Homo sapiens: one gene and its partners. The protein of the gene in region 3 interacts with the protein of the main gene of each other region in a pairwise test. Each region holds a gene or a part of one and is shown on either strand. Other genes may lie near its edges.

The links.
Region 1: the proteins of KRT27 (region 3) and GOLGA1 interact in binary tests that used the Homo sapiens proteins (3 or more experiments, as listed by UniProt).
Region 2: the proteins of KRT27 (region 3) and TNNT1 interact in binary tests that used the Homo sapiens proteins (3 or more experiments, as listed by UniProt).
Region 4: the proteins of KRT27 (region 3) and SMARCC2 interact in binary tests that used the Homo sapiens proteins (3 or more experiments, as listed by UniProt).
Region 5: the proteins of KRT27 (region 3) and ARHGEF6 interact in binary tests that used the Homo sapiens proteins (3 or more experiments, as listed by UniProt).
Region 6: the proteins of KRT27 (region 3) and SSC5D interact in binary tests that used the Homo sapiens proteins (3 or more experiments, as listed by UniProt).
Region 7: the proteins of KRT27 (region 3) and PPP1R18 interact in binary tests that used the Homo sapiens proteins (3 or more experiments, as listed by UniProt).

What each region holds. Positions count from the first base shown.
Region 1 is NC_000009.12:124,920,584-124,924,083, reverse strand, and holds part of GOLGA1 (golgin subfamily A member 1), read left to right. Parts: intron 1-860; coding exon 861-989; intron 990-2,191; coding exon 2,192-2,361; intron 2,362-2,843; coding exon 2,844-2,955; intron 2,956-3,500. UniProt on the Homo sapiens protein: Involved in vesicular trafficking at the Golgi apparatus level. Involved in endosome-to-Golgi trafficking. Mechanistically, captures transport vesicles arriving from endosomes via the protein TBC1D23.
Region 2 is NC_000019.10:55,132,207-55,135,706, forward strand, and holds the end of TNNT1 (troponin T, slow skeletal muscle), read right to left. Parts: intron 1,999-3,500; coding exon 1,860-1,998; intron 1,722-1,859; coding exon 1,681-1,721; intron 755-1,680; coding exon 709-754; 3' UTR 492-708; downstream 1-491. UniProt on the Homo sapiens protein: Troponin T is the tropomyosin-binding subunit of troponin, the thin filament regulatory complex which confers calcium-sensitivity to striated muscle actomyosin ATPase activity.
Region 3 is NC_000017.11:40,776,308-40,779,550, forward strand, and holds the end of KRT27 (keratin, type I cytoskeletal 27), read right to left. Parts: coding exon 3,195-3,243; intron 1,426-3,194; coding exon 1,208-1,425; intron 996-1,207; coding exon 946-995; intron 832-945; coding exon 692-831; 3' UTR 501-691; downstream 1-500.
Region 4 is NC_000012.12:56,179,484-56,182,983, forward strand, and holds part of SMARCC2 (SWI/SNF complex subunit SMARCC2), read right to left. Parts: intron 2,597-3,500; coding exon 2,521-2,596; intron 2,353-2,520; coding exon 2,221-2,352; intron 2,115-2,220; coding exon 1,999-2,114; intron 1,619-1,998; coding exon 1,494-1,618; intron 1-1,493. UniProt on the Homo sapiens protein: Involved in transcriptional activation and repression of select genes by chromatin remodeling (alteration of DNA-nucleosome topology).
Region 5 is NC_000023.11:136,669,433-136,672,932, forward strand, and holds part of ARHGEF6 (rho guanine nucleotide exchange factor 6), read right to left. Parts: intron 2,688-3,500; coding exon 2,588-2,687; intron 105-2,587; coding exon 50-104; intron 1-49. UniProt on the Homo sapiens protein: Acts as a RAC1 guanine nucleotide exchange factor (GEF).
Region 6 is NC_000019.10:55,512,436-55,515,935, forward strand, and holds part of SSC5D (soluble scavenger receptor cysteine-rich domain-containing protein SSC5D isoform 1 precursor), read left to right. Parts: intron 1-575; coding exon 576-737; intron 738-3,500.
Region 7 is NC_000006.12:30,683,846-30,687,783, forward strand, and holds the start of PPP1R18 (phostensin), read right to left. Parts: upstream 2,801-3,938; 5' UTR 2,202-2,800; coding exon of another isoform or gene 2,174-2,201; coding exon 563-2,173; intron 1-562.

The DNA of each region.
Region 1 (3,500 bases), on a different chromosome or scaffold from region 3:
AGGAGTTCGAGACCAGCCTGGCAAACATGGTGAAACCTCATCTCTGCTAAAAGTAGAAAAATTAGCCGGGCATGGTGGTGCATGCCTGTAGTCTCAGGTACTCAGGAAGCTGAGGCATGAAAATCACTTCAACCTGGGAGGCAGAGGATGCAGTAAGCTGAGATCTCACCACTGCAAACCAACCTGGGCAACAGAGTGAGACTCTGTGTCAAAAAACAAACAACAACGACGAAAGAGTAGACACATAAAATATATATCTGGACTTGCTAAACAGATGTAAGAACTTTAAAGTTCTACATAGGCCATGCACGATGGCTCATATCTATCAACACTTTGAGAGGCTGAGGCAGGAGAATGTCTTGAGGCCAGGAGTTCAAGATCAGCCTGGATAACAGAGCAAGATCCTGTCTCTACCAAAAAAAAAAAAAAGTTCTACGTAATTGTTGCTTTTATTCCCCTTTTTCACAATTATTTAAAACACATTTATTTTTAAATAAAGAATTAAATTCTCTAGTTAAAGGATTAATTCAATTAAAGAATTTGTAAATAATGCCATATTTCTGTAATGCTTTCCATTATCAATGCATCATTGTCCACTGGCATGAGATTTCCTGAAGATTTTTCCTTTATTAAGAATTCCACTTTCAGGCCGGGTGTGGTGGCTCATGTCTGTAATCTTAGCACTTTGGGAGGCCAAGGCGGGAGGATTGCATGAGCCCAGGAGTTCAAGGCCAGCCTGGGCAACTAGTGAGACTCTGTCTCTAAAGACAAAAATTTTAAAAAAGAAAAGATTTTCACTTTCGTAATACAGATTTCTAATGCTTTCGTTGCCTGAGTTGATGTCTTCTTCTTTCAAATAGGAGAAAAATATTCTGACAGCCCAGTTACAGGAAATGAAGAACCAGAGTATGAATCTTTTCCAAAGGAGAGATGAAATGGATGAATTAGAGGGGTTCCAGCAGCAGGAACTAAGTAAAATAAAGCACATGGTATGCATTTTTGTTTTAGTAGCTAAATACTGAATAGATGATTATTCACTCTGATTTTACTAGTCATCACTCTCTAATTGCTGATAAACATACACCAGTAATATGTGATATTAATCATATTTGATATTAATCATATTTGTATGTTTTTAAATTTATTAAAATAGAAAAGTTCTGTTTAAAATGTTCTTTTTCTGTTTTGTTTTGGGTTTTGTTTTGTTTTGTTTTGTTTTGTTTTTAACTACTGGGTATATAAATTCTCTTATAAGCCCACAAAAATGTTATAGAAATTTGGCTATTGGTCCACATTTTTTTTTTTAAATAGATGGAGTCTCACGGTGTTGCCCAGGCTGGAGTATAATGGCTACTCACAGGTGCGATCATAGCACACTGCAGCCTCAAATTCGTGGGCTCAAGCTGTCCTCCCACTTTAGCCTCCCAAGTAACTGGAACTGTAAGCATGTACTGTAGGTGTGTGCCACCATGCCTGACAAGCTTAGATTTTTTTTTTTCTTTCCTTTCTTTCTTTCTTTTTTTTTTTTTTTTTGAGATAGAGTCTCACTCTGTCACCCAAGCTGGAGTGCAGTGGCATGATCATGGCCCACTGCAGCCTCGACCTCCCAGACTCAAGGGATTCTTCCACCTAAGCCTCCCGAGTAGCTGGGACTACAGGCGCACTACCATGCCCGGCTAATTTTTGTATTTTTTGTAGAGGTGGTGTTTCGCCATGTTACCCAGGCTGCTCTCAAACTCCTGGGCTTAAACGATATGCATGCCTCAACCTCCCAAAATGGTGGGATTACAGGCGTGAGCCACCGTATCCAGCCGAGATTTAAGTGTATTTTTCTTTTTTACTTCTTTTTTTTTTTTGAGATGGAGCCTAGCTCTGTCACCCAGGCTGGAGTGCAGTGGCGCGATCTTGGCTAATTGCAACCTCCACCTCCCGGGTTCAAGTGATTCTCCCGCCTCAGCCTCCCGAGTAGCTGGGATTACAGGCACCCGCCACCACGCCCGGCTAATGTTTGTATTTTTAGTAGAGATAGGGTTTTGCCATGTCAGCAAGGCTGGTCTCAAACTCCTGACCTCAAGTGATCCACCTGCCTCAGCCTCCCAAAGTGTTGGGATTACAGGCGTGAGCCAGCATGCCTGATCTTAAGTGTATTTTTCTTAGCATAGCCCAATGAAACTTTGTATTTTTGTGTCAGCTTTTAAAAAAAGAAGAAAGTCTAGGGAAAATGGAACAAGAATTGGAGGCACGAACCAGAGAACTTAGTCGTACCCAGGAGGAGTTGATGAACTCCAATCAGATGTCATCAGACTTAAGCCAGAAGCTAGAAGAATTGCAGAGACACTACTCAACGCTGGAAGAGCAGAGGTTCTTGCTTGGTCTGTGGGGCCCTTGGGAAGAGGTGTTAGTGTAGTTCTGGCTATAGCCTGCCCACCTTTCCCCATTGTTCATTACACCACTTTCTGATTCCGGTGCTGGCAAAGGCTTCTGGACACATCCTTACCTGCCTAGGACTCAGGCCTCACCCTACCTCCAACCCATTTTCCCCTTCAGCTGCTGAAACTCAGGACAGTTCCACCCTGCTGAACAATTCAGTGTGGTTTTAGTTTGTAAAGTATTAATAGACTAAGGAAAGGCAGGTCAGGATTTCTTTCTTAAACTAGGGTGGACTTTTTCTCTTTGGGCTCCTGCTTCAGAGAGAGCCGAGGCTTTTTCCGTTGAAAACCTGCATGTGGCTAATGATGCTTGTAGCCCTGACACAGAAGAAACCATTTGTATTTTTCCTGCAGAAGACTGTATATTAGATGAGATATCCAAATTTGTTCATTGTCTGCTTTCTTTTGATGAAGAGATCATGTGATAGCTTCAAAAACAGGTGCAGAAAGTAAGATCACAGCCCTGGAACAAAAGGAACAAGAGCTCCAAGCACTCATTCAGCAGCTTTCCATTGATTTGCAAAAGGTAAGTAGAATATGAGGAGAAGACCTGGATTTCTAAGATTCATAAAAACTAATTCTTTCAGAAATTTCTGCCTGAGAGTAGCTACTGAACATACATTTCTCATGCAGTCCACATGGCTCCATTTCCTGTACTAGCCAGGCTGCACTCAGATGGAAATGGCCATACAGCTGAACAAGGGTTGCTTAGCAGAAGTAGTCAGTATTTTCCTGTCAGGAATTCTCAAAGTACACCATTTGGTCGACTCAAATATGTCTCTCTTTTTTTTTTTTTTTTCTTTTTTTTTGGGACAGAGTCTTGCTCTTGTCGCCCAGGTATTATAGGCGCCCGCCACCACACCCGGCTAATTTTTGTATTTTTAGTAGAGACAGGGTTTTACCATGTTGGCCAGGCTGGTCTCAAACTCCTGACCTCGTGATCCACCAACCTCGGCCTCCCAAAGTGCTGAGATTACAGGCGTGAGCCACCGTGCCTGGCCTGACTCAAATATGTCTTTAAGCACATAATGGACCTTGAGCATGAAAAATACAATAGTGGCTGACATGACC
Region 2 (3,500 bases), on a different chromosome or scaffold from region 3:
CACCTGTAGTCCCAGCTGCTTGGGAGGCTGAGACAGGAAAATTGCTTGAACCCGGGAGGTGGAGGTTGCGGTGAGCCGAGATCATGCCACTGCACTCCAGGCTGGGTGACAGAGCAAGACTCCATCTCAAAAAAAAAAAAAAAAAAAGATGCTGCGGCCGGTGCAGTGATTCACACCTAAAATCCCAACACTTTCAGAGGCTGTTGTGGGAGGATCACTTGAGCCCAGGAATTCAAGGCTGCAGTGAGCCGTGATCACGCCACTGCACTGCAGCCTGGGCGACAGAGCAAGACCCTGTCTCTAAAAATTAAAAATAAAAATGCTACTATGAACATTCATGTACAAGCTTTTGTGTGGACAAAGGTTCTTGGTTCTCTTGGATATACATCCAGGAGGGGAACTGCTGGGTCCTGCAGAAATGCTTTCACTTGTTGAGGAACCGCCAGGCTGCTTGCAAAGCTGTTGCATTTTCCATTCCCACCAGCAGTGTGTGAAGGTTCAGCCTGCCGTACTTTAATGATTATTGGTGACACTCTTTCAAGTAACTTGTTGGTAATAAGAAGTCAATTAACCAGGAGAGACCAGCTGCATCTCAACCATAATAACATCAGAGAACCCAGCGGGTGTCTGAGGGGAGCGTTTATTTCAAGCTACCGATGGGACAAACACTCCCAGGCTTCCCAGGTGCCACTGTCCGGGGCGGCATCCTCACTTCCAGCGGCCTCCAACGCGGCCCTTCCCTGCCCCCTTCCGGCTGTAGAAGAATGAGGTGGTATCAGGAAAAAGGGGCCCCTCCAGTCTCTGAAATGGGCCCCAGGCCCTCAATTCAGGAAGCCCATTCCCCAAAATATTAGCCCTCCCTGCCCAGAGGAAGCAGTGAGCAAAACAACTGTCACCTCTTTTGGGTTCTATGACTGGGGGGCAGCGGCTGGTGGTCAAAGCCTCGCTGACATGTGGGAGCTGATATTTGGGGGCGAGTGCAGGGTGTTCATGGGGGAGCTGATGAATGTTTATGAGTCAGGGGCCAGGGTGGGGGGAGGAAGGGTTGGATGATCTGGGCATGGGTGGGTAACACGCAGGAAGGGCTGGGGTGAAAGAGACAGGAAATGGGAGAAGAGGAGAAGGGAGAGGGAGAGGAGGGAGGAAGGAAGAGGGAGTGGAGAAACAGAGAGATTCAGGGAAGACCCTCTCGGCTGGGCGCGGTGGCTCACGCCTGTAATCCCAGCACTTTAGGAGGCCAAGGCGGGTGGATCACGAGGTCAGGAGTTCGAGACCAGCCTGACCAACATGGTGAAACCCCGTCTCTACTAAAAATACAAAAATTAGCCACGCTTGGTGGCGCGCACCTGTAATCCCAGCTACTCAGGGGGCTGAGGCAGGAGAATCGCTTGAACCCGGGAGATGGAAGTTGCAGTGAGCTGAGATCACTCCACTGCACTCCAGCCTGGGTGACAGAGCGAGACGCAGTCTCAATAAAAAAAAAAAAAAAGAAAGAAAAAGAAAAAGGAACTGAGACCCAGGATTCCGAGAGCAGAGAGAGGAGGACAGAGAAGGAAGGACAAAGAGAAAGGGGCAGAAACTCAGGCAGTGGGGGATGGAGCCCACAGAGGGAGGGAAAGAGGCCTGAGAGTCAGCGGGAGGGTAGGGACAAGAGCAAGGGCTTGAGACGGTCACACTCACAACTTCTGGGCGTGGCTGATGCGGTTGTACAGCACGTTGATCTGCGGAGGCAGAAGACAGATGCTGGGACAGCCGGTGGGGACGTGGGGACGGGCCACCCACCCCTGCCTGGAGTTTGCTGGTCCCTCCCAGCCCAGCCCTGCCCTCTCTCCCTCCCTCCCTGCGGAGCTGGGTCTCACCTCATATTTCTGCTGTTTCAGCTTCGCCATCAGGTCGAACTTCTCAGACTCCAGCTGGTGGATCCAGTCCGACAGCTCCTGGGCTTTCTCCCTGGCAGGGCAGGAGGGCTGTGATGGAGGCAGCCAGGCAGACCGGGCCCTAGGCCCAGGGACGGAGAGGAACTTGGGCCCAGAGAGGTTGTGGGAACCACCCAAAGCCACACAGCGAGACTGTGAGTTCAGCGTTGTCGGCACCATTTTGTTCATATTTGAGGCCGAGAGTTTTAAAATCTGTGCCCACTTTCTCCACATCCGAGCTGGAGCTCTCGCATTTCCCAAGGGGAGAGAAGGGTGTCATGATTAAGAGACCAGGCTCGGCACCTGTAATCCCAGCACTTTGGGAGGCAGAGGCCAGCAGAACACTTGAGCCCAGGAGTTCAAGACCAGCCTGGGCAACAAAGAGAGACCCCGTCTCTGCTAAAAATAATTAAAAAAATTAGCCAGGCAGGGTGTTTCCGGCTACTTGGGAGGCTGAGGCAGAAGGAACCTGGGAGGTCAAAGCTGCAGTGAGCTGTGATTGCACCACTGTATTCCTGCCTGGCAACAGAGCAAGACAAAAGAAAGGAAAGAAAAGGAGAAAGGAAAGTGGGGAGGGGAGGGGAGAGGAGAAGAGGGGAGGGGAGAGGAGAAGAGGGGAGGGGAGAGGAGAAGAGGGGAGGGGAGAGGAGGGAAGAAGAAGGGGAGGGAGGGAGGGGAGGGGAGACGAGGGGAGGGGAGGGGAGGGGAGACGAGGGGAAGGGAGGGGAGGGGAGAGGGGAAAGAAAAGGAAGAAAGAAAAGACCGAGCCCAGGCTCTGCAGTTAGAAGCCCCTGGTTCAATTCCCAGCCATGCCATTCTCTGGTTTATGAATATGTCACATGACTTCCTTTAGAATCCTGTTTCCTTCTCTAGAAAATATGGAAATAAAACTGTGGAAGAGATGGCTGCTTGCCTACCTGTTAGCCCTTCTCCCTTTCTTCTAGAAATAGCCTCTTGTGCATTAGGCTGAGTTGAAAAACTACTTTGCCCAATCTCCCTTGCAGGTAGGGGTGGCTACTCAGACGAAAGCAGGTCACTGGGTGCGGCTTCCAAAAGAGACTGTGTGGCTCTTCTCTTGCGTCTTCTTTCTGCTGCTTGGATCATCCATGTGAGGCTGGAGCTAGCAGCTATATTGGACTAAGTGATTTTGAGGATGGAAATATTGGGCTAAAAGTAGTGAGTGAAGCAGAAAACATAGGAGTCTGGTCTCTGATTTTGTAGAATTGCCATACCAGCCCTGGACTAAAACCTACCTTTCCTTCCTTCCTTCCTTCCTTCTTTTCTTTCTTTTCTTTTTTTTTTGATAGGGTCTCACTTTGTCACCCAGGCTGGAGTGCAGTGACACCATCACAGCTCACCGCAGTCTCAACCTCTCAGGCTCTAGTGATCCTCTCACCTCAGCCTTTTTTTTTTTTTTTTTTTAAGACAGAGTTTCGCTCATGTCGCCCAGGCTGGAGTGCAGTGGTGCCATCTCGGCTCACCGCAACCTCCGCCTCCTGGGTTCAGTGATTCTCCTGCCTCAGCCTCCAGAGTAGCTGGGATTACAGGCGCCTGCCACCACGCCCGGCTAATTTTTGTATTTTT
Region 3 (3,243 bases):
CCACATGGCTCTGCAGTCTTGGATGGCAAAAACGAAGGAGAGAACTTGTGAATTCCTACCGTTATGGTGGAGTGATCAAGATTATGAATTAGATGCCTGCTGGAATTCTCCTCTTACCCTTGTCCTCACAGCTCTCTTTTTCCCCTTCTACCTTCAAATATCACTACTTATAGCCTTTCCTTTATGTTTAAGTTTGTTTCTGATTCTTCAGGTTCTTATTTCTACATCTATGAGCATATTGACTTCAGGGACTGGATCTTATTAACTGTTTTATCCTCGTTATCTGGCACATAGCGTGTTCTCAGTAAGTACTTTTCGTACTGAGACAAAGGAGACAAAATTTTACAGAGAAGTCAAAAAGACTCCAACTAGTTTTCACATTAAACTTACTTCCAACTTGTGAAGACTGTTGAATTAAACAGAAGAAATTAAAGACAAAATTCAGCTTCCATTTGGGAGGGTATATCTAAAATGCAAAGATTGGCCAGAACCAGGGAAGATGACTTGCAACAGGAAGAACTTTTATTGAAACACCACCATAGAGAAAAAGCCAAAGAAATGGTACTATTCTAAAAATAACTTGTCTTAATTCATTGGAAGAAAAGCAGAAAAATAAGGGGACCCTTATTTAGGAAACTAGCTTCATTTTGGTATTTTAATTTGGGGGCCATTCTGTCTCAGAGGCTGGAGTTCAGGAAGACACCCTCTGTTCATTCTTGTTGTTGACTTTGGTGGATTTCTCTTCCACAGTGTGAACTCTGGATGAGAGAACTTTGCCACGAGGATCTATCTCTTCAACAACTGTTTTGACAATGGTGGTTTTAGATGAATCTAAAATGCCACATATAAACTGTTTAGAATTTATCAAATTCATAAATAGGAAATAAAACATCATTTGAAACACATACAAATAAACACTGAATGCCTAACACAGCTTTTGTTTACCTTTTGTTTGATTTCCTGGGCCTCCATAGCCTTTTGATTTAGAACAGGAGCTGTAAAAGTATAGAGCGCTTATATTAATTATTCTGTTTTACTGAGGAAACTGAAAAATAATGATTTAAGGTGGGAATTCACTGCATTCTGAAATAACACTAAAAGAGTATTATCTATGCGTGATCTAGATCATAGATATTTTGTACTTGATTTCAAATCATCTTTAGTAACCTTAAAAATGAATTGTTTTCTCAATGGCGGCAATACTGACCCATCTTCTCCATCTATCAGGAGGCAGTAGGTCTCAATTTCTTTTTCCAGGTGGACCTTGATGTCAAGGAGCTGCTCATACTCGAGCTTCTGGCCCTCGGTCTCGGTTCTGACCTGGTGCAGCTGCTCCTCCAGGGCCCCGATCTGAGCCTGGATCTGTGCCAGCTGTGCACAGTAGTTACTCTCGGTCTCTGTCAAGGAGCACTCCAGGGAGTGTTTCTGTAGTTTGGTAAGACATGGTTTAATAGAAAAGGTCACGGTGTTTTAGAATAAGCCAAAGCATTTAAGAGATAATTAAGAGAATTATCCTTACATCATGCAAATAATTATATTTACCCAAAAGATTCCACTTCTTCAATATTAATTGTTGCCTTTATTAAATGTCCTACTACTTTTCTATTTGAGAATGACACAGCTGGTGCTGAATGTCCCTCAGATGCCCAGGTGTGCTAAAAAAGATGAAATTGTCTCTTCATAGGGCACAGACTGAAAGATCCCTCCCCTGCACCAATATAGCCTGTGCTTGTAGAGTGTGGCACAATTTGCTACTTTACCCACAACTAGAAGTCCGCCTATACTTTGCTACTCATTTCTAGCCATGTGACAGTCTTGTCTTATGAGGATTGTAGCTCTTCTATTAAAAAGTCATCCTGCAGTAAACCGCATAAACGTTCCATGAGTAGAATAAACCACAGAAAATAATTACCTTCTTAGACTTTAAATACAGTAGTTCAATTCATTGGCTTGTGAATCTGAATGGGTTTACAGATATACTCAGAGGGAACACTCACTGCAATTTTACATGGAATGAAGATGAGAGTGTCTTATCCTTTCACCTGCAAGTATTTTTTATATAAAGTCTTGATTTTATATACATTCATAGCCTCATCTGTGGATAAACTCTGGTGGTTTACTAGCCATAGTGGGAAAAGTATAGACTTGGGAGTTAGAAAATTTGGAGAGAACTTCTGGATTCCTTCATACCCAACTGTGGGACTGTGGGAATTGCTTAACTTCTTCGAATCTCAGAGTCCTCTTTTGGAAATAATGACATGAGTTATAACGTCTGCCCTGCCCATGCCCCGGGGTTGTTGTGGACTCACATGTGGGCGGAAGTGCTGGGCAAACCCTTAATGAAAGCAGTTATGATTATCATTACACATGTTTAGTTTTATAGTCAGCCTTCATGCCTCGACTTTTCCTCTGTCTATGCCACTTACAAAGGAACTTGTAAGTGCTCTTAATTGAGTGGCCAAAAGGAATGCTAGATGAAGCTAGGAGTGGTGCAAATGTATTTTTGCTCTCTTTAAGCAGTAGGATTTTTTTTCTTTTTTTTTAAATGGACACATAAGAATTGTATATATTTATGGGGTTCCATAATTATATTTCAAAACACACAATGTGTAGTGATAGAATCAGGGCAGTTAGCATATCCATGGTCCCAAACATTTATCTTTTTTGTGTGTGTTGGGAACATTCAAAATCCTCTCCTTGAACTATTAGAAATTATAGAATAAATTATTCTTAACTGTAGTCATTCTACAGTACTATAGAACACTTGAACTGATTCTCCCTATTTCTCTGTAATTTTGTATCCTTTAACCAACCTCTTCCTATCCCCCCATCCCCTTCCCAGGCTCTAGTAAGCACTTATCCCACTCTCTACTTCTGAGATCAACTTTTTTAGCCTCCACATATGAGTGGTTTTTGATATTTTGACTTATGATAGAAGATTCAAAGTCAAAACGATTTTCTTTTTCCAGTATCTTGACTGTATTTGCTAATTTCTAATATTTCATAATTATTGGCATCCAGCTATACTTTGTAGGCAAAGAGGATTGTCATGTGCAAAATGCAAATATGTCTTATGTCAAGCACTGTAATTAATGGTTAAAAACTAAAATATGTAATTATGTTGGAAGAAAATTCTCTTCGATTATTTTTTTCTCAATTTCTAAAGCAAATCTGTTTTGTAACTTTTCGCTTACCGTTGCTAAGAGGGACTGAAGTTCAATCTCAAGGGTTTGAAGAGTGCGT
Region 4 (3,500 bases), on a different chromosome or scaffold from region 3:
GGAGGTAGAAGCCAGAACTCTTCTTGGTGGCAGCCCTAATCCTACCCCTGAAATACACTTCTGGAATACCTGGGGTGAGTCTACAGAATACAGACTGTAAACCAGTATTGGTGGAGCAATGTCTCCAAAGTGGGGTTCTAACATAGGACGCAAAAGATGATCCACTGCAACTCAGGGAGAGAATACAGAACTTCTCTTCATGTTTTTTGTTTTGTTTTTTTGAGACGGAGTCTCGCTCTGTCGCCCAGGCTGGAGTGCAGTGGTGCGATCTCGGCTCACTGCAACCTCCACCTCCCAGATTCAAGTGATTCTCCTGCCTCAGCCTCCCGAATAGCTAGGATTACAGGCGCCCACCACCACGCCTGGCAAATTTTTGTATTTTTCGTAAAGATGGGGTTTCACCGTGTTAGCCAGGATGGTCTTGATCTCTTGACCTCGTGATCCGCCTGCCTCGGCCTCCCAAAGTGCTGGGATTACAGGCGTAAGCCACCGCGCCCTGATTCTTCATGTTTGTTTTTATCATTCTTTACATTTTTCAATTTTTTAGATATGTTTGTGTTTTAAAACGTTCCCATGGTAGCGGCTTAACAGTACAAGTACATAATTAATGCATATATACATTTTTTTTTCTTTTTTTTTATTTGAGATGGAGTCTCGCCCTGTTGCCCAGGCTGGAGTGCAGTGGCGTGATCTCAGCTCACTGCAAGCTCCGCCTCCCAGGTTCACGCCATTCTCCTGCCTCAGCCTCCTGAGTAGCTAGGACTACAGGCACCCGCCACCACGCTCAGCTAATTTTTTTGTATTTTTGGTATAGACAGGGTTTCACCATGTTAGCCAGGATGGTCTCGATCTCCTGACCTCGTGATCCGCCCACCTCGGCCTGCCAAAGTGCTGGGATTACAGGCATGAGCCACCGTGCCCGGCCCTTTTTTTTTTTGAGATGGAGTTTTGCTCTTGTCGCCCAGGCTGGAGTGCAGTGGTACAATCTCGGCTCCCTGCAACCTCTACCTCCCAGGTTCAAGCAATTCTCCTGCCTCGGTCTCCCGAGTAGCTGGGATTACAGGTGCCCACCACCACGCCCAGCTAATTTTTGTATTTTTAGTAGAGATGGGGTTTCACCATGTTGGCCAGGCTGGTCTCGAATTCCTGACCTCAGGTGATCCGCCCGCCTCGGCCTCCCAAAATGCTGGGATTACAGTCATAAGCCACCGTGCCTGGCCATGCTCAAATATATTTTACTGTCAGAAACACATAATCAAAGAGTTTGGAGACAACTACTATCAGGCACAAAGCACAGTCCACAACTCAGATATGAATATACAGTTAGAGGATTTTCCAGGGTAATGACCGTAATTCCAATAACCAGCTAAATTTAAGGAAAAGATCCTGTAGACTGGGAGGTGGACCTGAGAAATCAGCTCACTTGGGGTTTGGCAAAGGAGAGTCAAGACGGGGAGTGGGGGTGGATCCCAGGAGCTCAGCCTGGCCTGTACCTGTTTTGGGAAGTGTCACCTCTTCTACATTGGGGACTGGTGAGGGCTCGTCCATGTCCTTTGTCAGGTCTTCTTGCTCCTCTTCTCTGTGGCCACGCTTTGACTTAGTGTAAGGTGTTGAGGGACTGGGAAGGAAAGAGAGTGAAAGAGAACCCAGTCATCCTTGGACAAGGAGTCCCTGGAAGTTGAAGTTCAAGGGAAGGGAAGTGACAGAGAATTCCAAGGGTAGAGCTGAGTACAAACAGAAACCAGTAATCACACAGTAATGGGAAGTGGCAAAGGCTTTTCACTTGATAAAGCTCTCTTTAAATGTACTAGTGGGGCCAGAACCAGAACTAACAACTGAGCAGCTAAAGATCTCCTCATCTTCCCTCTCAGGACACCTGCAGTATTATGGCACACCCAGGTCAGGGCCAGGTGGTTATAGGAAGGGATTTGTCTTTCCTTCCTTCAACATGATGTGGAGAGAATGGTGAACACGGGGGCAGGCTAGGGGCTGGCACACCCTTTCTTAGCATTTTTCTTCTTTGCTTCTGGGGTTGGTGAAGGAGAGGGGGAGCGCTTCCTCTTCTTATAGTTTCCCCCCTTCTTGTCCCGTCGATCTGAATCTGGGCTGTTCACCTATAGGATGGAGAATCAGGACAAATGTCAGCCTACAATCCCCACTGAAGATTTGTTCTGAGACTTATGCTAAGGGCGCCAGGAAAAAAAGAACAGGATTTGTCACCTCATCTGTCAGTGTCTTGGCTGAAATCTTCTTTCGGCGGGAGACAGGGTTTTTGTCATCATTTACTTCATAGTCTTCCTCATTCATCCATTCATTGAAGGTGTCGGTGTCCAGGATCCACTTTGCATGAACCTAAAGTACAAAGGCAGATCATGCTGCAGAGAAGCCTGGAAGCCACAGCTCTGTCTGGGGACCCTTAACAGAAAAAGCTCAAGGGCATACAAGCCTCTGTTTCACTTCCAAAGGGTAGACTGTTCCTGGCATTCTTTTTGGGGAAGAGGGGATACAAGAAAAGCTCACCTTCCTAGGTTTCTCAGGAGTTGGAGCATCTTCCACAGATGCCTCAATTTCACTCGCTGGGATCCACGTGTCGTAACTGCCATGGGAAATTGAGCACACAGTAGAATCAATGGGATAGAATTGTGGAAAAGTAAAGTGCAGATCTTTTACCCTTTCCATTTACAGAAAGTATTGGGTTCTTGGCTTATTTTTTTTGTATTCTATTCATTATAAAGTAGTAAAAGCACATTACGAAACATTTCAAAAATAGAGAACAAAAAGAATCACCCTTACGTAACTACTCTTGATACTTGTATATCTGTTTTTCCTCCACAGTAATTTTTTTTTTTTTTTGATACAGAGTCTTGCTCTTGCTCTGTCACCCAGGTTGGAGTGCAGTGGCGCGATCTCGGCTCACTGCAACCTCCGCCTCCCGGGTTCAAGCGATTCTCCTGCCTCAGCCTCCCGAGTAGCTGGGATTACAGGTGCCTGCCACTGCGCCCGGCTAATTTTTATATTTTTAGTACAGACGGGGTTTCACCATCTTGGCCAGGCTGGTCTCAAGCTCCTGACCTCGTGATCCACCCACCTCGGCCTCTCAAAGTGCTGGGATTACAGGCATGAGACACCGCGTCCAGCTGGGGTTTTTGTTTTTGTTAAGACAGGGTCTCACTTTGCTGCCTAGGCTGGTCTTGAACTTCCAGCCTTTAGTGATCCTCCTGCCTTGGCTTCCCAAAGTGCTAGTATTATAGGAGTGAGCTACTGTGCCTGGTCCACAATTTTCTTTTTACATAATCATAACCATACTAGATGATGTTTTTACATAATCATAACCATACTAGATGATATTTTACATGCTTTTTTTTTTTGAGACAGGGTCTTGCTCTATTGCCCAGGTTGAAGTGCAGTGGTGCAATCATGGCACAATGCAGACTCAACCTCCTGGGCTCAAGCAATCCTCCCACCTCAGCCCCCCAAGTAGCTAGGACTACAGGTGCATG
Region 5 (3,500 bases), on a different chromosome or scaffold from region 3:
AAAAGAGAATGGTTCTATTACCCGAGAAAATGATTTTATATTTTATTACCTGCTTCAGTTCTCTGACCTCGTCCTTCAAGGCGTAAACAGTATCAACAAGGCTCCTAGAAAATAAAGATAAAATTCAGAGACAAATGGCTTGCACTGAGGTACTGTTAAAATACTTAACAATAAAAGCCACTTTATAAAAATACAGATCCTGAAAAACAGTGGACTTTCTAGCTGATTGGGAATGGTACTGCTCTAAATGGTTTCCATCTTCTTGACTTTGATGGAAGAACAACCACCACCACACATGCTTAGCTAAATGCAATGTCATTACACCTTTTCTATACTTCCCTCCTCCTTTTCTACTCACTTCCCAGCTTGGGTGAACAAAACACAAGAGACTAGGGCCCGTCACTAAGTTTTTCTTTTTCTAGCTTTGTTGAGGGATAATTGACAAAGCTGTACAATGTGATGTCTTGATATATGTATACATTGTGAAGTGGTTACCATAATCAAGCTAATTAACATATCCATCTCCTCACATAGTTACCTTTTGTATGTGTGTGGTGGAAATCTACACTCTTAGCAAACTTCAAGTATACTCCATTGTAAACTATGCAGTCTTCCCTCCCTCGGTATCCATGGGGTATTGGTTCAAGGACCCCCATGGATACCAAAATCCACAGATGCTCAAGTCCTTAACATAAAATGGCATAGTATTTGCATATAACCAATGCACATCTTCCCATACACTTTAAATCATATCTAGATTACTTATCATACCTAATACAATGTAAATGCTATGCAAATATTTGTTATACCATATTTCTTAGGAAAAAACAATATGGTATAACAGTGCATACATATATCAAGACATCACATTGTACACCTTTGTCAATTATCCCTCAACAAAGGCGGAAAAAGAAAAACTTTACTAGGTATGAAAAAAATCTGTACATGTTCAATACAGATGCAACCATCCATTTTTTTCTGAATATCTTTTTGATCTGGGGTTGGTTGAATCCACAGATGCAGAGCCCACGCATGCAGAGGGCCAACTGTAGTCAACATGCTGTACATTAGTTCTCCAGAACTTATTCATCCTGCATACCTGAGATTTGGTACCCTTTGACCAACATCTCCCCATTTCCCCTTTCCCCTCAGTCCCTAGAAACTACCATTCTGCTCTCTGTTTTTAGGAGTTCGACGTTTTCAATTCCCGTCATAAGGTTTTGATTTCTCTAGCTTTGGGGCAGGAATGAACATCACCTATCATATAATGAGAGGTATCACAAGATTGCCTAGTCTACAGTATCTGTGCTATGACATTGCCCTTCCCAGTTCTCTGACTGCACATGACACAAAGTCAGAGGCATTCTTTCTGGAATATCTCAACCATACAGTACCCAAAAAAGTAATTTTTTGGTAATTACTGGGTTGCAGAACAGCCTTTTCCTCTCTGGGTCTCTCCCTGGACAAAGATTTTGGAGATCTAAGTTTTGGTTCTGATCCTGCCACTTACTAGTCCTCTGTTCTCTGGGAACCAGTTTCCTTCTCATCCTCTCTTGGTCTTAGTTTCTTTACATGTAAAATGGGGATAATAGCACATTTTCTGAAAACCTCACAAAGTTGTAAAAATGAATATCGTTATAATAAGAATTAACTAACATTATTTATTGAGCTAGCCTTTATACTTATTTCACTTAACCTCACAACAACTCTGAAAGCATTACCGTCATCCTTATTTTACAGATGAGGAAACTGAGGCACAGAGAGGTGAAGCAACTTGCCCCAGGTCACACAGCTAATGAGTAGCAGAAGTGGGAGTTGAACCACACTGTTTTTTGCTTGAGCCCAAGTACTTAACCATTTTGCTGTATCACTTCACACATCAGATGTAAAATGCATTGACAATGCCAAGCACCTTGAAATATGCTGTCCTATGCAAATTTAGGCCTGACTTCAGAAATGACTCAAGTTTAGACAAATGAATTATTTGGCTACTTTGTGTTAATTTTATGAGCCAGAAGGTACTTAACCTGATTTTCCCCCATTAGGTCACCCACACTACTGTGTAAAGGTAAGTCAGAGACATAATTTCCCTGAACTTCCTGTACCTCAGTTTCTTTATCTGTGAAAGTGGTGAGAGTAATGTTTATCTAACCGGATTGCTGTAGGATTTTAAATGATGTCAAAAATGTGAAAGCACAGCTTCTGACTCAAAACATGTGAGTGGCATCTCTCCGGGCAAGGAAATTGGTTCTGTGGCTGGAATTCCCAGCCACTTCCTAAACCCATCCAGGGCATTGATATTCCCATGTGCTCAGAAGCAGCTTACTGGATGGGGAGCTGGCTGCAGGGGCAGCTGCCAGCTGGAGCTGCCTTGGAGGGCTCTGTCACCGCTGCTTTTCCTTCCTCTTTCCATTTGTTAGTGGGCAGCCCTCTAAAGTCTCCCAAATGCATGCACAGCAAAGCAGGCCGCATTCCCAGGTAAGGAGGAGTTGTCCCTCATCATAGACTCTCCAGGAGCTCCCCGTCCTACCAGACCTTCTTGCCAGCCCCAAGAGAAACTAGGCAAGGTTTTGCCTGCTCTACTCACTTTTCTTCCATGATGGTCTGGCCGTTGCTTCTGGTTTCTTCAATGATGAGTTTCTCTTCCTCAGGGAGTAGGACTTGTGGAATGGAATCTTTTCGAGTACCTACAAACAAGGGTTGCAAGATGGGGGAGGAGGGAGAGTTACTAGTGAAGAGTAGAAATAGTGGGTGTTAGTTCTTTTCCACTATTGTTACAGAAGGGTCTTTGTTCATAGCATGTTGCTACATTACACCCAGAGGACAGTCACCCATCATTTGCTGACTAAATTTTCCTGACATGAGAAATTCTAAATGGCCAAATACACTGATTCAATCTTCCCGAGGTGGGAAGCATTTTGTATTCAGAAAAATAATGCAAAAGAGCCCCTGTAATACCTGTCCACAACCAAGACCTCCATTCTTTCCTGTTTTGCCTCCTCCAGAGCAAAGAGCTGACCAGTGATCACTCTTCCCTGCAAATCTCCAAGGAAGGACACACTACATCCTATGCTACAGTGTTTTGTCATTGTAGTAAAAGGTTGACAGTAGCACTGCACTGAAACACAATGTGCTTAAAGGGCCTCAGAAGCATCATCACCCCCATTTGTTCTCTTTACAGTCTTATAGGGTAAGGTAGGTATGTCTCCTAAGACCATTTTCATCAAGGGTGGAGTGAGGTTTGGAGATTATCACATCATCAGCAAAGATGTAGGTGTCCTCTGCCCAGAATGTCTCCAGGCTCTGGGACAGAAGAGGTGACAGAACAGGCATGGGGGCCCAACCAAACAGCTCTCCTGCACCTCCCTCACTCTGGATCCTCCCTCTCAGAGCTCAAGTGCTTAATCTTGGGTCTCCCTGAGCCACTGGCTTCCTCTCTTCTAGGCCAAGTTCCTTCAGAGGTGTGCACACTCACTGCCTTCACTTGACCACCTCCCCTT
Region 6 (3,500 bases), on a different chromosome or scaffold from region 3:
TTTTCCCCCGCTAGGGCAGGAGCCTTGAGGAATTAAAATAATAAATTCCTTTTTTTTTTTTTTTGAGGCGGTGTCTCGCTCTGTCACCCAGGCAGGAGTGCAGTGGCACAGTCTTGGCTCACTGCAACCTCTGTCTCCCAGGTTCAAGTGATTCTCCTGTCTCAGCCTCCCGAGTAGCTGGGATTATAGGCGTGTGCCACCATACCCAGCTAATTTTTTGTATATTTAGTGCAGATGGGGTTTCTCCATGTTGGCCAGGCTGGTCTTGAGCTCCTGACCTCAAGTGATCTGCCTGCCTCAGCCTCCCAAAGTGCTGGGATTACAAGCTTGAGCCACGGCGCCAGGCCCAAATGCCCTTCATTTTATGTGCTAGTTTAGTGACCGTTTCCGTCGTTGGTAGCCAAAAACATCCCAGCTGAATGGAGAAGGTCTCCACGAGGTCAGGTAGGGCTGCAGTGGCGGTGCAGTTGAGACGGGATGATGCCTGAACTGGGGCTGGCCCAGGAGGAGAGAGACGGGGAGTCAAACTCAAAGGGAAGTTGGAAGACTCAATCCTCTTCCCCATATCTCTCTAGGCAGCAAAGATGGTTACAAGCTTCCCTGGACGTGGGACACACCATCAGGAAGGGGCCTGGCTGAGGGGACCCCTACCGCAGGCAAACTAGGACCAACTCTTGGGGCTGGCACCACCAGGAGCCCAGGCAGTCCTCCAACTCTGAGAGTCCATGGAGACACAGGTGAGACACGTGGCTGGGGTGAGGAGACTGGGACGGTATTTGTCCTGGGGTAAAGAGACAGATTCCAGACTCCCCACTGGAACCCTTACCCCAGAAAGACTCAGCAGAAATATACCCTAAAACAAAGGGTTATCGGCTGAGCATGGTGGCTCATGCCTGTAATCACAGCACTTTGGGAGGCCGAGTTGGGAGGATTGCTTAAGCTCGGGAGTTTGAGAGCAGCCTGGGCAACATGGTGAGCCCCCCAAGATATGAACATTAGCTGGGTGTGGTGGTACGCACGTGTGGTCCCAGCTGCTTGGGAGGCTGAGGCAGGAGGATCCCTTGAGCCTGGGTGCTCGAGGCTGTGGTTGTGCCACTGTATTCCAGCCTGGGTGCCAGAGCGAGACCTTGTCTCAAATAAAGACAAAAACAGAACCAAGAGGTTATTATCTAGACCGCTGGTCATCAACTAGGGTCGATTTTGCCCCCAAGGGGAATTTGGCAATATCTGAAGATATTTTGGATTGTCATGGCAGGAAGTGAGAGGCTACCCATTGGCACCTGATCGGTAGAGGCCGGGGTGGTGATAAACATTCACAATGCACACGACATTCCCCATAACAAAGAACCACCCAGCCCTAAATTACAATAGTACCGAGGTTGAGAAACCCCAGCCTAGATGGCATAAGTCACTGTGACAAATAGGAAAATGATAGGAAACCCTAGATGAGAAAGAGGAAAACAGGTGATTCCCAGAAAAGGAAGCCCAAATGGCTGAGTGTATTTAGAAATGCCCACGCTCATCAGGAACCAGAAAATACAAATTAAAACAATGGCAAGTACAGAGGAGAATGAGAAAGGTGGGTATTATCCAGTGTGAGTGAGGATGTGGGAAGACAGGCAACCCCACTGGACAGAGCTGTTTGATAAAGACAATCCAGCAGTATTTAGTAAAGTTAAGCATGATTAGGCTGGCTGCAATGGCTGACGCCTGTAATCCCAGCACTTTGGGAGGCTGAGGCGGGCAGATCACGAGGTCAGGAGATCGAGACCATCCTGGCTAACACGGTGAAACCCTGTCTTTACTAACAATACAAAAAATTAGCCAGGCGTGGTGGTAGGCACCTATGGTCCCAGCTACTCGGGAGGCTGAGGCAGGAGAATGGCGTGAACCCAGGAGGCAGAGCTTGCAGTGAGCCGAGATTGCGCCACTGCACTCCAGCCTGGGCAACAGAGTGAGACTCTGTCTCAAAATAATAATAATAATAATAATAATAATAATAATAATAATAATAATAATAATAGGTGTGGTGGCAGGCGCCTGTAATCCCAGCTACTCGGGAGGCTGAGGCAGGAGAACTGCTTGAACCTGGGAGGCGGAGGTTGCAGTGAGCTGAGATCGCACCACTGCACTCCAGCCTGGGCAACAGAGAAAGACTCTGTTAAAAAAAAAAAAAAAAGAGAGAGAGAGAAGAAGGGAGGAAGGGAGAAAGGAGGGAAGGAAATCTGCATGAGCTCCATGACGTAGATCTATAATTTTGCCCATTTCTCAGATGAGTGAAATTGAGGCACAGACATCAGTGACTCTGACATCAATAATTATTAGAGTGCTTATTCCATGCTAGACATTACACTAAGTGCTTTGCACAACCATGGTCTCCCTGAGTCCTTTTGACAGCTCTGCAAGGGAGATACGCGGATCATCCACAGTCTATAGCTGAGGAAGAAACTGAGATTCAAGCAGTGAAGTAACTTGGCCGTGGTCACCCCGCTAGGAAGCCATGCAGCTGGGGTTTAAACTCGGACAGCCTGCCTTGAGCACAAGCCCTTTACTTAACCGCTTCTCCAATCCTGCAAACAAAGGACAAGGTGGGGAAGGGATGCGCCTGAAAGACCCTGCCCTGCAGGAACAAGTGGAAATCTGTAGATCTGTGTGGTTCAATACGGTAGCTAAGAGCACCGGGCATGGTGGCTCACGCCTGAAATTCCAGCACTTTGGGAGGCTGAGGCAGGCAGATCACCTGAGGTCGGGGGTTCAAGACTAGCCTGAACAACATAGTGAAACCCCATCTCTACTAAAAATACAAAAAAATTAGCTGGGCATGGTGGCACATGCCTGTCATCCCAGCTACTCAGGAAGTGGACACAGGAGAATCACTTGAACCCAGGAGGCGGAGATTGCAGCGAGCCAAGATCGCGCCACTGCACTCCAGCCTGGGCAACAGGAGTGAAACTCCGTCTCAAAAAAAAAAAAAAAAAAAAAGTTAAATGAATTAACACTTTGAAAATGAAACATTTGCCGGGCGCAGTGGCCACGCCTGTAATCCCAGCACTTTGGGAGGCCGAAGCGGGCGGATCACGAGGTCAGGAGATCGCGACCGTCCTGGCTAACACAGTGAAACCCCATCTCTACTAAAAATACAAAAAATTAGCAGGACATGGTGGCGAGCGCCTGTAGTCCCAGCTTCTCGGGAGGCTGAGGCAGGAGAATGGCATGAACCTGGGAGGCAAAGCTGGCAGTGAGGCGAGATCGTGCCACTGCACTCTAACCTGGGCGACAGAGTGAGACTCCGTCTCAAAAAAAAAAATAAAATAAAATAAAAGAAAATGAAACATTTAGTTTCTCATTCACACTGGCCGCATTTCAAGGGCTTGGTAGCCACATGTGGCCAGTGGCTACTGTATTGGCACGGTAGATCACAGCGCATTCCCATCACTGCAGATGTGAGATTTCATTGCCTAGACTCTATGTGCAAACAACTTGGGTTCAAGTCTTAGCCC
Region 7 (3,938 bases), on a different chromosome or scaffold from region 3:
TCCATCCTAGGATGTCCCTATTCAGCTCTGCCCTCCTTCCCACGGGGCAGTTGGACCTTTCTCCATTCACTTCTCCCTGCAGTTTCTCCCTAGAACACAAACCCACCCCACCCCCTCCACCACCCCAGGCTCCCTATCCCTTCTCCCCAGAAAAACTGCAAGTGCTCTCACCCTGGTGACCCTGCCCTCACTGATTCAAGCTCGTCACTTTAGGCTCTCCCACTGGATGGGCTGGGGCAGGTCACACTCAGGAAAGGAAGGAAAGAAAAGGGGGTTGGAAACTCAGAGCCCAAGGGAAGGGAGAATGAGCAGCCTGGCACACCCTGAAAGAGACACACCCAGAGACAGCCTTTGCTGGGGCAGGATCTTTTGGGCTCAAAATGGAAAAGGAGGGCTCTGAGAAGGAAGGGTGTATGTGCAGAGCGAGGAAGGGTGGTGGCAGGAATTAACAAGAAAGAATAGAGGAAGACAAGAAAACAGGGGTATAAAAAAGAAAGAGACCAGAGTCCAGAGAAAATTGACAAGTGGACTTCTAAGAAGTCTGGCTTGGCTGCTTCCCTACCTGTTTGTGGTGTCTTTCGGGGGACCCCTTGGCAAGGCAGCTGCGGCTGAGACGGAGGTAGCCCCCCAGAACCAAGATCTCCTCGGCAGTTGGGTACCGCTTCTTCCCAGCCCCCGGGACTGCAGCATCAACTGTGGCTGGAGAGGTTGGGGTGGCTGGGGTCGCAGGGGGCACAGACCGCCGGGGGTTGACGGTGAAGGTGTGTCCACTGCGGCGGGGGGCCCCCACCCCTGGCCCTGCCTTCACCCCATAGAACAGGCGGCTCATGAGGGGATCCCCAGGAGGTTGGGGGGCAGTTGGGGCTGGGGGTGGGGGAGACAGAGGGGCTGGTGGTGGGGGCTGGAGCTCCACTGCTTCCTCTTCCTGCTGTCTCAGGCCTCCAGTCCCAGCGTCCTCTGGTGGGAGGGGGGAGGGCACAGAGCAGCAGTTCTGCAGGGCTCTCAGAGGCCTGCCCTGAGCCCCCGCCTCCTCCTTCTCAGCCTCCCCTTCTCCAGCCTCCACACCGGGAGATTCCAGAAGCTTCTCTGCTGACTCTGGAGGTTCTGGTTTCTGAGTTTGAGCCTCTATGTCCCTGGGTGTCCATTCTCGAGCCTTCCCGGAGTTCAGGGTCCATTTCCACCCTTCTGTTGGCTTCATGCCCCTCTCGCCATCTTCCACAGGCCTCTGCTCTGCTGCCTCCACTCCTGCGGAACTGTTGCCTTGGGCCTCCCTTGTCAGGGTCTCGGACAGCTCTGCAGTCTCTTTTGGAGCTACCCCTGGAACTGGCCACTCTTCTTTTCTCCCACATTCTTCCGAGTAGTCTTGTCTTTCTTCTCCTGACCTCAGCCTCCACTCTGTTGCCTCCAGTTGTACCAAACTCTGTTCCTGAGACTCTCTGGAGTCAGGTCTCCATTTATGGGCCTCTGTCAGGCCCAACTTCTGGTAGGCAGATTCCCCTGGGCTCAGTCTACTTTCCACCTCTTTTCTCCTGGGGCTTTGCTCTCGAGACTCTGCTAGTCTCAGACTCCGCTCTGGAGTTTCTCCAGGACTCAGCCTCCATTTCCATGCCTCTGACAGTCGGGAGCTCCTGTCTCCCACCTCTCCTGGGCTTTGCCTCCAGTCCCGAGCCTCCAGAGGCCTCAGGCTCAACTCTTGGGCTCCCCCTATCCCCAGCCTCCTCTCTCTGGTCTCCCTCGGACTTAGTCTCTCTTCTCTTGACTCTCTTCCCTTGGGGCTCTGATCCCGCATCTCCCCAGGGCTGGGTCTCCGCTCCCGGGCCTCCAGAGGCCCAGGCTTTCTCTCTGCTAGCAGCTCTTCACTCCGTTGTTGTTGCTGCTGCTGCTGCTGCCGCTCCTGCCGGATGAATCGGTTCTGGTGCACTGGCCCGATGGCCTCCAGAAGGACCGCAGACTCATCCGGGTCTGGAGGTCCAGCCTCTACAGTCCCTAGCACAGGGCTAGGCTCCCCAGGGGACAGCCCAAGCTTGGCCCGGCGGCGCTCCAGGAGCCCTCGTTTCCAGGCTGGCATCTGGGACAGGCGCTCCCGTTCTGCTTTCTCTCGGCCTCGAACGGACGCCTCCTCCTGCCGGCGCCGGGCTAGCAGCTGTAGCTTCCAGTCTGGGATGGTGGCCATGGTCGTCTTGAGGTGAGGGTAGGGAGCACTGGGGACAGAGAACAGGAAGGAGAGGCTCCAGAGAGTGAGACAGCCCGGGGGTGAGACTGAGGGTGGGAGGAGAGGAAGTGGAGGGGGAGAGGTGGGACACAAAGCAGGGCAGAGGGGCTAAGGATGAGGACAGAGGGAAAGACGGAAGGCAGAGAACTGGGGAAATGGAAAAAGTGAAGAGAAGTTGTGAGCCCAAGTTGGGGGTGGTGGGGGTGATGTGAGAGGAAGAGTCCGGATTGGAGGCAATGAGGGCAGGAGCCAGATGTGGCAGCACAGGGTTAATGCGTATTAAAGACCGTCTCTAGGATGTGAGAAAGAGAGAGAAGGGCGAAAAGGAAAGTTGGCGTGAGGGAGAAGAGAGAAATGTGGCAGGGGTGAGGGGAACCTGGGTGCAGGCCAGGCTGCCTCAGCGATACCCCAGGGAGGCTAGTGTGGGAAGGAAGGACCAGGAATCCCTGAAAGGACCAGGAGGCAACGGGACCTGAGGGGGTGTTGGGGAGGCAAGGAGGGGCGGAGAGCGAACAGGTCTAGAGGAGAAGGGAAACCAGGGAAGAGGGGAAAGGAGGGCGGCGGCAGCAGCCGGGCGCGTCTCAGCGCGGGCCCCAAAGGTCCCGGCTCCGCTTCCAGCACCGCTCGGGCCACGCCTCTCCCCAGCCCCCACCCCTCTGCCCCGCACTCCGCCCCCGAGGCGGGTCGGGGGAAATAGCCACCCCCGAGACTTTCGGAACCCGGGCGTCAGGGCTGCCAGCGCGTTCCCAGAACCCTGGCGTCCACCCCCACCCTGTCCTGTCACCACCGCCTGCCTCCCCCACCGACTGCCCCACGCGACCCCAGAGTGCCAAGGGCCGGCTCCATGTCTCTTCTCCCCGGCGCCTGCAAGTCCTGCGCCCCGTCCCCGCTCTCATGAAGCCGTGACAGAGCCGGCCGTCTCCACCCCGCTGTAGCCGCACAGACTGACAATCTCGGCACAAAGAGGAGACAGCCAAGGTCCGGGCCAGGGACGGGAGCAAGGACAGGGGCGAGGAGACACCCACTCCCCAAGTCTGAGCCCCTCAGTCAACTCACAGGCCGCGGGACCCCCGGGGGAGGGGGTGCGGAGGAGCCGGGCGTCCAGAGAGAGGAAGAGGAGGAGAGAGGGACCGAGGGAGATCCGGAGACTGGAGGGAGGGGAGGAGGGAGGGAGAGGAGGAGGGAAAGAGGCAGCAAAGGAGGAGGGACGGAGACAGAGACCAGGGGGCCGGGCGGGGGCGGCGACCGCTTTGTCTAAGGACAATGAGGAGAGGGAAGGGGGCGCAGGGCGGAGCCGAGGAGAGGGCGGGGCCTAGATCCCTCCCACCCCGCGTGGGACTCGCTGCGGGACTGCCCTCTTCTCGCCCCAACCACTGGTCCTCCGCTCTGTCCCCAGGGGCCCTCACCAGCTTCCCGCCCGGACACGCCAGGTGTCCAGATCCCTTCCCCCAGCTCGCCGACCCAGGGCGGTGGCCCGTGACTCAGGCCCCTCGTGGGACTTTGGGAGGAAGCGGCAGCTGCTCCGAGCGGGGCCCGCCCTTCCCATCTCCTGCCGCTCCTCCCTACGCTTTTGCCTTCTCATCTGGGTCTGTAGGTCCAGCCTCTGAAGTCCTTTGTTTTGCGGGGTCGAGGGCAGCCGCCAGGCTGTGGGGGGCTTTGTGGATGGGCGGCAGGAGAGGCGCTCAGAAGCCAGAGGTTTTGGATGCTCCCTCCCCTACCAGAGCTG